Linked DNA regions of Homo sapiens. The protein of the gene in region 1 interacts with the protein of each later gene in a pairwise test. Each region holds a gene or a part of one and is shown on either strand. Other genes may lie near its edges. The genes, in order: ANTXR1 and ASB10.

What was found.
Region 2: the proteins of ANTXR1 (region 1) and ASB10 interact in a two-hybrid assay, tested with the Homo sapiens proteins (one study listed by BioGRID).

The regions. Positions count from the first base shown.
Region 1 is NC_000002.12:69,247,179-69,250,125, reverse strand, and holds the end of ANTXR1 (anthrax toxin receptor 1 isoform 1 precursor), read right to left. Parts: 3' UTR 799-2,947; downstream 1-798. UniProt on the Homo sapiens protein: Plays a role in cell attachment and migration. Interacts with extracellular matrix proteins and with the actin cytoskeleton and thereby plays an important role in normal extracellular matrix (ECM) homeostasis.
Region 2 is NC_000007.14:151,184,181-151,191,885, forward strand, and holds the start of ASB10 (ankyrin repeat and SOCS box protein 10), read right to left. Parts: upstream 3,071-7,705; 5' UTR 2,951-3,070; coding exon 2,635-2,950; intron 2,480-2,634; coding exon 2,212-2,479; intron 1-2,211. Other genes in the region: DRC11L (IQ and AAA domain-containing protein 1-like), read right to left, coding at 6,800-6,907, 7,458-7,696. UniProt on the Homo sapiens protein: May be a substrate-recognition component of a SCF-like ECS (Elongin-Cullin-SOCS-box protein) E3 ubiquitin-protein ligase complex which mediates the ubiquitination and subsequent proteasomal degradation of target proteins.

The DNA.
Region 1 (2,947 bases):
GAGGCTGCAGTAAACCATGATTGCATCACTGCACTCCAGCCTGGGTGACAGAGTAAGATCCTGTCTCAAAATAACCCCCAAAACACAATTATTAAAGATATAATTTTAAAATGTGTTCATACCCATACCTATTAAAAAGCAAATACTAATGAAAACTTAGAAAAGACTTGTGGCATGACTTTCTGTTTGTGGATGGTTTTATTCCAATTAAGATGTATTCAAGGCTCAATGAGATCTTACAAAGAAATTCAGGAACTAGAAGGAGATGCTCTTCTACCTACAAAATAAATGGAGGAGCTGAATTAAAACTGCTAGGAGGGATAAAGTGAGTTGTATCAGAAATGCAGAAGCAATACAAAGATTTTGAGATGTACATAGAAAGGTATTTATTGCAGCACTGTCCACAACACTGTCTGGTTCTTGGGTTGCTGCAAATCTCTGGACTCCTTGTAAAATCAATCCTAGTTGCCTTTCTGCTACGTTAGCCAAACACAATCCTAACTGATGCAGTATATTTTTCCTGTGTGTTCTGTTTTCACTTTTTACTTATTTTCTCTTAGCATGGATTACATTTTTAATTTGAAATTTGTTATGAGAAATAAAAAATATTTTGAATGTCTGACAGCTAAGGAAGAAATGACAGTAATCCAGACAGTAGAGAAATTAGTGGAAGGCATGAAATCATTTGAGAAATGTAATTTAATGTATAGCACAGCAACCACTGTATTATGATCAGGATATTGAGAACTTGAATACGTCGCACTTTATAACAAACAGACAAATAACCAGAAAAAAGAGTTGATTTAAGAAATTTATTATTTTTTTTAAAAAAGCAACTTCCAGGGTTGTCATTGTACAGGTTTTGCCCAGTCTCCTATAGCATGGTATTATGATCAGGATATTGAGGACTTGAATACGTTGCACTTTATAACAAACAGACAACCAGAAAAAAGAGTTGATTTAAGAAATTTATTATTTTTTTAAAAAAAGCAACTTCCAGGGTTGTCATTGTACAGGTTTTGCCCAGTCTCCTATAGCATGGTATAGTGATAACTGATTTTTTATAACAATGACTCAGAGGCATTGAAGATCCATAACTATCTTCTGAATTATCACAGAAAGAAGAAAGTTAGAAGAGTTTAATGTTAAGTGTATTAAAAATCATATTCTAATTCTTTTAATTTGGTTATCTGAGTATGATAATATAGGAGAGCTCAGATAACAAGAAAAGGCAATTGGTTAGAACACTCCATTCCCACAGGATGTGCATTAACAGACTTTTTACTGCATATGTCTTTATATAGTTTGCAAACTAATTCAACCATTTTACACAGCATTAATTTTTTTTTTAACTGGGTTGACATTGGGCTGAAACATTTGCTTATCATCTTATAATTATTTTTTCCTGTTCTTTAATGGATTTTACCCCCATCTGACATAGTGTTTGGACTTTAGTGTATGTGACACTTCAAGATCATCTCTGCCCATTCTGATGATAGTTACAATGAGGTTACCCATGGCCAGATATCGAAGACTATTAATTAATCCACCAGCTCTGTTCTCAACTTTGGTAAAAGAGAGATCTTGTGTCTCACTGGAGGGTGCACCAAGCTTCAGGCAAGAAACTGTGAGCTGGCTGTCAACAGAATATGGTTCTTATCAAGGTTCTTATTAATGCTGTGCAAACAAGGGTCTCGTCATTTCAGTAACTATTTGTACATTTATAAAAGCAATACAGTCATGGGAAAAACCAACAAGCACAGCTTGGTAGAATAACCTGCCATGAAATATCATCGGCTTTATAATAATTTACTACAACTGTTCTTTTTATTCACACTGGATAGGAAATGCTTCCATCTAACACATGGAATACGAATATATACAACACAAATTTGGCTTTAATAAAAAAAAAAACAGTTCAAAAGGACAATAACACGGGGGCTGAAAACAATAATTTTGTGCAGTTTCCTGATCATAATCACATGTCTCCTGCCTTTTACAGGGAATGACACAAGTATTGATGGATTTTGTAAACCAGTTAAAACATTTTCCTGCCTGTAATAGCCCACTATGAAGATATCACCTTGTTCATACAGTCTTATAGAAGTTTCTCCTTCTTAACTGTAATTCTAAATAACCGGGGATGACACACTGAGTCGGTTTAAGAACAAATCCTGCTGAGCCTTTTCAAAATCATCATACATTTGCAGTTCCCTATTCCATCAAAATGCTTTGCCGAAACAACATCTTGTAACTGCACTGGGCATATGACTGATGTGCTGAATGGTGCATTTGCACTGATGCTCACCATCTCGTTGCTCAGCAACGTCAGCATCTCGGCTTGAACTTCTGAATGGCCGCGGGAATCACGCGGCAGTGCCATGGGGTGGGTGGACTGTTTTAGACTGCCAGCAGTCAAAACAGTTGTGATGGGCTCAATGTCTCTACACTGTGAGCCTGGGGAACCCATTCTCCTATGGAATGGTTTTCAGGGGTCCAGCAATGTCACTGCAGGTGGCTGAGATATTCTGGCCCCTGCTTATGAGGAACTACATGAAAGAAGAAGCCTAGTGTTCTAAAAATTAGACAATGCGGCAGGGTTGGGGAGAGGCTGGGGGGTTGCTTTCATGAGTCTGGAAATTTCTGGTTTTAGCTCTCTGAGAAGGCTGGGAGACTCTGTTGTAGGCAGCTGTGGGAGAAGGCTAGGGTTGGAGGTACACCTGGAGATGTGTCAGTTTGGTGTTGGCACTGCAGATTCAGCGCCCGTGGTCCCTGACTAAGGCACTCTGCCTAGATCTATTTTCCCCTGACTGTACCTTTTATGCCCCCTGGCTTTCCCATTCTCCCTGGAAACTCCTGTTTGTTTTTGCTTTCTAAGATAGAGATAGCAAGTAGGGTTCATTTCTCTCATCTGACTGTTGGGTTCATCTGACTGTTGAGTGGCGGC
Region 2 (7,705 bases), on another chromosome or scaffold:
AGGTGGGTGGATCACAAGGTCAGGAGATCGAGACCATCCTGGCTAACACGGTGAAACCCCGTCTCTACTAAAAAATACAAAAAGTAGCCGGGTGCGGTGGTGGGCGCCTGTAGTTCCAGCTACTCGGGAGGCTGAGGCGGGAGAATGGCGTGAACCCGGGAGGCGGAGCTTGCAGTGAGCCGATATCACGCCACTGCACTCCAGCCTGGGCGACAGAGTAAAAAAAAAAAAAAGAAAGGAAGGAAATTCTGAAACATGGGACAACATGGGTGAAGTCTGAAGACATCATGCTAAGTGGAATAAGCCAGTTACAAAAGGACAAATACCACATGATTCCACTTATGTGAGGTCCCCAGAGTGTTCACATTCAGAGACAGAAAGTAACATAGTGATTGCCAGGGGCTTGGGAGACAGGGTGGGGTGGGTGGTTAGTGTTTGATGGGGTTAGAATTTCAGTTTGGGAAGATGAGAAAGTTTGGAGATGGATGGTGGCGATGGTTGAACAACAACATGAATGTGCTTAATGCCATCGAACTGTACGCTTAAAAATGGTTACAAAAGGCCGGGCACGGTGGCTCGTGCCTGGAATCCCAGCACTTTGGGAGGCCGAGGCGGGCAGAACACGAGGTCAGGAGATTGAGACCATCCTGGCTAACACTGTGAAACCGCGTCTCTACTAAAAATACAAAAAATTAGCCAGGCATGGTGGCGGGGGCCTGTAGTCCCAGCTACTCGCGAGGCTGAGGCAGGAGGATGGCGTGAACCCGGGAGGCGGAGCTTGCAGTGAGCCGAGATCGCACCACTGCACTCCAGCCTGGGCGGCAGAGCAAGACTCCGTCTCAAAAAATAAATAAATAAATAAAAAATGGTTACAAAGGCAAATTTCATGTATATTTTACCACCATTTTGAAAATTAATTTTACATATTTGTCTTTTTTTTTTTTTTTTTGTGAGACAAAGTCTCACTTTGTCTCCCAGGCTGGAGTGCAGTGGCGCAATCTAATCTCCGCTCACTGCAACCTCCACCTCCCAGGTTTAAGCAATTCTCCTGCCTCAGCCTCCCGAGTCGCTGGGATTACAGGCGCCTGCCACCACACCCAGCTAATTTTTGTATTTTTAGTAGAGACAAGGTTTGGGCATGTTGGCCAGGCTGGTCTCGAACTCCTGGCCTCAAGCAAGCCACCTGCCTCAGCCTCCCAAAGTGCTGGGATTACAGGTGTGAGCCACCGTGCCCGGCCATTTGTCATTTTTTTTATAGGGCTGCTAGAACACTGTAAATTGCATATATGGCTCACATTAGGTTTCCACTGGGCCACGCTAGTAAAGAACACATCTTCAACCATAGTATGATTAAGCCTGTGGAATCCTCTAGAGGCTGATGAGATTAACAAGAAGGAGAGGGTCCATGAAAGGAGAACCCCAGGGTCAATAATTTGGCACCTTTCAGAGGCAAGAGACAAGACCTGCAGGTGTGCAGTCAGTAGAGAGAGGGCCTCTATAGGATGTAGAGTTAGTTCACAAAATTGTAATTGGGATCCCATCCTACAACGTTCCTTACACTTGGGTTGCAATTATTTATGTCACTGCAAAGGACTATTCCCTACAATAAATGATACATTGGCACATTTGGGTGTATTCATCAGTTTCTTGGGAGTTTAGTTAGTGAGAGTCCCTTGAGCCCATGATCTGAGGGTGCCCTACCAATATGGAGATTCTAGACCTGTCTTGGAAAACCAGACCCTACCCAGAGGGACCCAGGCAGGTCCTCACTGGGGCCACCATCCTCTACTCCCTGTCTGGATCACTGGACAGTAAGCTCCCTGAGGGCAGGGCCTCAGGGACTTAGTTGCTGTTGTGCTTAGCACAGTGCCTGGAACATAGGATAAGCTCAGAAAGTGTTTTCAAAAATTTTAAGCAACACCACCTCCCCATAATGGAGCCAGGCAATTTCCCAATGCGGGCCATGCAACTGCACCCCTGCCACAGCCTCCCTCCACCCCTGGGAGACCAGAAAACTGTCCAAAGTCCAGGCCACTCCAAAGTTCATGGGGTCAACGGGTGGATGGCTTGGGAAGTAATTGCACCCTGACCCGCGCCCCAAGCCTGGACTGCTCTGTCCCAGGTCCCTGACATTTTCCCCCATCCTCCCTGAGAAGGCCTCTTTGCTTCCCTTCAGAGTGGAACTGGGGGTTGGGGTGAGGGGTCACTCACTCAAGGGTGCCAGGCCCCCGGCAGAGATGCAGGGGGCGTTTCCCATCCTGGTCAGCGATGTTGGGGTCGGCTCCTGCCACCAGCAGCACATGAACACAGGCAGTGTGGCCTGCAGCACAGGCCTCGTGCAGGGCGGTGCGGCCCCCAGGGGCACTGTCTGGCCTTGCTCGCCGCCTCAGCAGCAGCCGCAGGACTTCCGTGTGGCCACGGCTGGCTGCCACATGCAGTGGGGTGGTCAGCTCCTCTTCGTATGTCAGAGACCAGAGTCCTAGGGAGGGGAGACGTGGGCCTCAGATCCCCAGGGAAGGCAGAGACCTTCCAGCCAATGGGGTGAGGTGGGCAGAGGCAGGAAGAGGGAGCCCAGAGCTCCATCTGCAGCCTCCCCTCTCTCCCACTGAGAGCCCCCAGTGCCCCGGCCCGTACTCAGAGCACGGATGTTGAAGCGGAAATCCCTCCATCGCTCTGGGTCGCTGGTATCAAAGACGGAATCAGGAGCCAGGCCAGTACTGGAGTCCGCGAGGATGCGGGAGACACAGCCCACGTCCCCAGCCAGCACTGCCTGCCAGAAGGCAAGGGCAGGTCCTGAGGCTGTGCGGGTGACGATGGGTCCCGGGCCAGACTTGAGGTGCTCCTCAGACCCTCTGCTGGGCTTCTCCACCAGCCTGGCACAGAGGGGGTGTCTGTCATCGAGGGGCTCTCCCTGCCCCTTGCACTCTTCTGGAGACCAACTCATGAGCATGTGGGCAGGGAAAGGGGAGTGGGGAGGAGGAGAGGTATATGCCAAAGGCAGAGAGAGAGAGAGAGAGCAGGAGGGAAATACAGACAGACAGAAGGCCCCTGTGTCCCACGCTCCGAGGCTGACCTGGCCACGCATCCAGCAGGAGCTATTCTGGGCTCCACATGACTGTGTTCTTGGGCCAAGGTGTAGGCTATTGGGCAAGCTTTGAGGTCGGGGAGAAACAGCCGGGGGCTTCTCCTTTCACTCAAGCCCTTAGGACCTCTGTGGCCGAGGCAGTCAGCCCAGCCCCCTGGTTCTCAGCAACCCCCAGATGCCCCTCACCCCTCTGGTGGCTGCTCCAGCGAGGCTCTGCGGCCCGGCTCTCCAGCAGCAGGTCGGCTGTGCTGTGCGGGGGGAACAGCTCCTGCAACCTTGCCAGGTCCCCGGTGTAGAGGGCATTCTGCAGGGCCATGTCTTGGCAGAGCAGTGGTGATGGCCGAGGGGGCTCCCAGGCTGGGCGGGAGTGGGGCCTCCAGATCCGGCAGGCCGGGGCGGAGGGAAGGCACCCCAGATGGTGTCCCCAGTGGGGAGAGGAGTTCTTTCCCCAGGGCATGGCTTGTTCTGGGAGAGCCAAAGCAGCACGACTCCCAGCGATGTTGCTGGTGGACTGGGCAGGTGGGTGCTGGGCCCGAGCTGGGTGGGGCCCAGCATGGGAGGCGCAGGGGAGCACAACATCAGGCAAAGCCATAAATAGCCCTGACTGGCCCAGCTGTCAGTCAGGCCGGGTGGGGGAATTAGGGAGGGGCAGGAGAACAAGTGAGGCCTGAGCCCGCCAACCCTGAGCTTCACCCCAGGGCTGTATGACCTCAGGGTGGAAAGGGACCACCCGGACCATGCTGCCCAGTCCGTCATCTCGGCATTAAAGGGAAGTGAATTTCCCAAGATCACGCAGAGAGCTTGTTGCAGAGCCAGGACTGGAACCCAGGGCCTTGAGCTCTTTCTTGTTCACCAAATCGGCCTCCAGCTGCCTGGGCTCTGATCCCACTGGGAAGGCCTGTGGGTGCCAGATAATATTTCCTGCCCTTCCAAATGTCATCTGTTAGCCCTGCACCTTCCCACTCCCAAACCAAGGGAGGAGTTCACAGTAGTGACACAGATTGCCCTCGCTGTGTGAGGCACCCCTCAGGGGGCTCCCTTAGACAGACGTGTGCCTGAGTAACAGAGCGTAACCCACAGGCAAGCCACAGAAACTCCCCATGCTCGTCCTTGATGCCAACCCCCCCATCTCCCTGGATGACCTTGGGTGGCATCTCTCCCCTGCTGTGGTTACATGGGGTCTCTTCACTAGAGAGTGAGAAAGGAGAAATGTCTCTGTGTACTCAGGCACTGACTTTTGTTTGGGGGCCGGGTGGATCAAAAGGAAAAAAAGAGAGAAAGAAGATGAGAAACCAGGCCCTCGGGCTCAGCTCTGACCCACCACTGCCCACCATGGGCTTGAGGTGCTCCAGCCCCATTGGTCTTGCCCCTTTGGCTCACGCTGGCTTAAAAAAATTTTTTTAAATCAATTGCTTTTTAAAAAGTTTCATTTTTAATTGACAAATAATTGTATATATTTATGGGGCTATAATATTTTGATACATGTATATAATGTGTAATCATATCAGGGTAATTATCACATCTATCAAATGATATTTACCATTTATCTGTGGTGAGAACATTTAAAATCCTCTTTTAGCCATTTTGAAATGTACATCATTATTCACTACAGTCGCCTTGCTGTGCAATAGAACACCTGAACTTATCCTATTTACCTGTAACATCATACCCACTGACCAATGTCTTCCCTTTCCCTTTCCCTGTCCACCTCCCTCGAGCCCCCAGCCTCTGGGAATCACCATTCTACCCTTTACTTCTATGAGTTTGACTTTTTTAGATTCCACAATAAGCAAGATCATGCGGTATTTGTCTTTCTGCACCTGGCTTATTTCACTTAGCACAATGTCCTCCAGATACACCACATTTAAAAATCCATTCATCTATTGATGGACACCAGTTGTTTCCATCTCTTGGCGATTGTGAGTAGTGCTGCAGTGGACGTGGGGGTGCAAACCCCTCTTCTGCATGCTGATTTCAATTCCTTTGGGTATATACCCAGTAGTGGGATTGCTGAATCATAAGGTAATTCTAGTTTTAGTTTTTTGAGGAACCTTCATTCTATTTTTCAAAATGGTACTAATTTACAACACCACCAACCATGCAGAGTCCCCTTTTCTCCGTATCCTTGCCAACACTTATCTTTCATTTTTCAATAATAGCCAGTCTAACAGGTGTGAGATAATATCTCATTATGGTTTTTGATTCACATTTCTCTGATTACTAATGTTGAACATATTTTCCAATATATGTTGGCCATTTGTATGTCTTCTTTTGAGAAGTGTCTGTTCAAGTCCTTTGTTCATTTTTTAATGGGGTATTTTGTTGTTGTTGTTGTTATTTAGTAGTTTGAGTTCCTTGTGTAGTTTGGATATTCACCCCTTATCCGATGTTTGATTTGCAAATATTTTTTTCCCAGTCTGTAGATTGTTTCTCCACTCTGTCATTTCCTCTGCTGTGCAGAAACCTTTTAGTCTGGTACAATCCCATTCATCTACTTTTGCTTTCATTGCCTGTGCTTTTGAGGTCATATCCAAGAAATCTCTGCCCAGACCAATATCATGGAGCTTTCCCTTATGTTTTCTTCTAGGGGTTTTATAGTTTCAGGTCTCCTGTTGTCTCTTACTACCTGTGGACACACCTTGGCCTTCATCCACACACTGTGTACATGGTCCATGGGTCTGCCTCTTTCAAGAGAACACTCTGGGGCTCACCAGCCCTTGGTGGTATGGTTGCCCCTGCTCCCTAAGTTCTCTGACCCCGTTCTCCCCTGAGCTGTTCCCTCCCCAGCAAGGGGAAACCCACAGATGGACTCCCACCCCAGGGGCAGGAGGCTCTATCCCATTGAGCCCTGAGGGTTAGGCTGTGGTCAGAGGATGCAGTGCACAGCTGGGGCAGGCAGAGTGCCAGGGGACAGGTCTTTAGAGGAAAGAGATGAAGGCCACTCTGAGAAACTGGGTCGATCCAATGCTGCTCTCCCATGTCCATTGCAGCATTGGGTCTACTAGCAGCCCTTACCCTAGTCACAAAGCCCTACCGCTTCCCCACACCTCTGCTGAGCCCTGCTTCCCATCCTGCCCCCGCCACTCCCCAAGCACCTCTCTGCCCTGACTTCCCAGACACTTTTGCTACAATAGTCAAACCCTAGAGTAAAAGGGACCTTAGAAATTCCTGGTCCAATCTCTCTCTGCTTTATAAGTAAGAAAACTGAGGCCCAGAGACAGGAAAGCACTCTCCAGGTCACACAGGGAGTTAGTGCCAAGTGCATTTAGAACCAGGGACAGTTAACTTCCAGACCTGTGCTTTTTCTATCTGACTGCAGACCTTCCTTCTCCCTACTCTTCTCTTTCCCTCTCTCCTCTTCCTATTTTTTCTCCCTTAAATACCTCAAGGAGGAAGAGATTCAGGGAGCCAGGATAGGACAATGACAAGGAGATGAAGACCTGGAAGTGGGGGCTGAGGACAGGGATCTAGGAGGCAGAGCAAGGAGGTGGCAGTGAGCTGGCAAGGGCCAGGGCCCAGGAGAGAGGTGTGGGCTAGACAGCGCCAGGCACAGGTGGGGGCACAGAGGGAAGGGTGGGAAGACACGGACATGGATGGACAAGAAGAGTTTGTTCCCAAGTCATCTGGGCATTTATGCCTCTGCCCCATCCCTTTACCCTTGGGCCACTGCCCTGTCCCACGCCACTAATCTCAGGTGCCCGCAAGCCTTAGCCATCACTTCCTTTTCTTCTTCTCCTTGTCCAGCTTGGCCTCCTCGGCCTCCAACTGGTCCATCCTGTGTTTCATGCTCTTCTTGCCCAGTGGGGTCTTGAAGTACCAGTCCTGGGTTGGTGGGTACAGGAGTGGTAAGGCCCTCAGACCCATCCTGACCTCACCCCTCCCCCTTTTACAGATTGTTTCCTCAGCAGCCTCTTCTCCTCTCCTCCTGGGTTTGGGGGTCCTATTAGTGCTGGGGTTTCCCTTGCTCCCCACCAAATGCTTCAGGTACAATGTCAGCCGTTCTTAGTGGGCAAGCCCTCTTCCCTCCACACCTGCAGCCCTCTCTCCTGCATTCCCAAGGCCATCCTTGGCAGGGGCACTGACTCGGGGGTGGGAAAGGTGGGTGGCAGCTGCTACCAGAACCCACAAAGGGCTCCTGATACCTCGGTGGTTCTTGCAAGCTCCCACCCTCAGGGAAACCAGGTGGGACGGCCCCGAAGCCTTGGCATTTCCTGGTGATTTCCTGCTCCCTTCCCAGCTGAGCTCCACACACATTTCCACTGATTGTCTTCTGGTAATTTGTGGGAGCAGAGAGAGGGGTCCGAGTTGTGCTTCAGGGGGCTGACTCCCCAAGGGCGCTGCTTACCCACAGCCCCTGGCCCTGCCACCTCACCTTCAGGGACTCCTCCTCCTCCCTGTACACTGGATCCAGCTTCACCAGTTGTCCCAGGAACTCAGAGGCCACCAGGGGCCGCTTGGACAGTTGCAGGAACCGCCGCTCACTCAGCACCGATTGGATGGCTTGGAGAATGTGACCCGGCGTGTAGCCATCGGAGACCTTGGCTAGGGCACTGATGTCCAGGTGCTGGGTCGGCTGGATGCCCCGGGCCTCTATCATACGCTTCCAGAGCACTGCAGGCA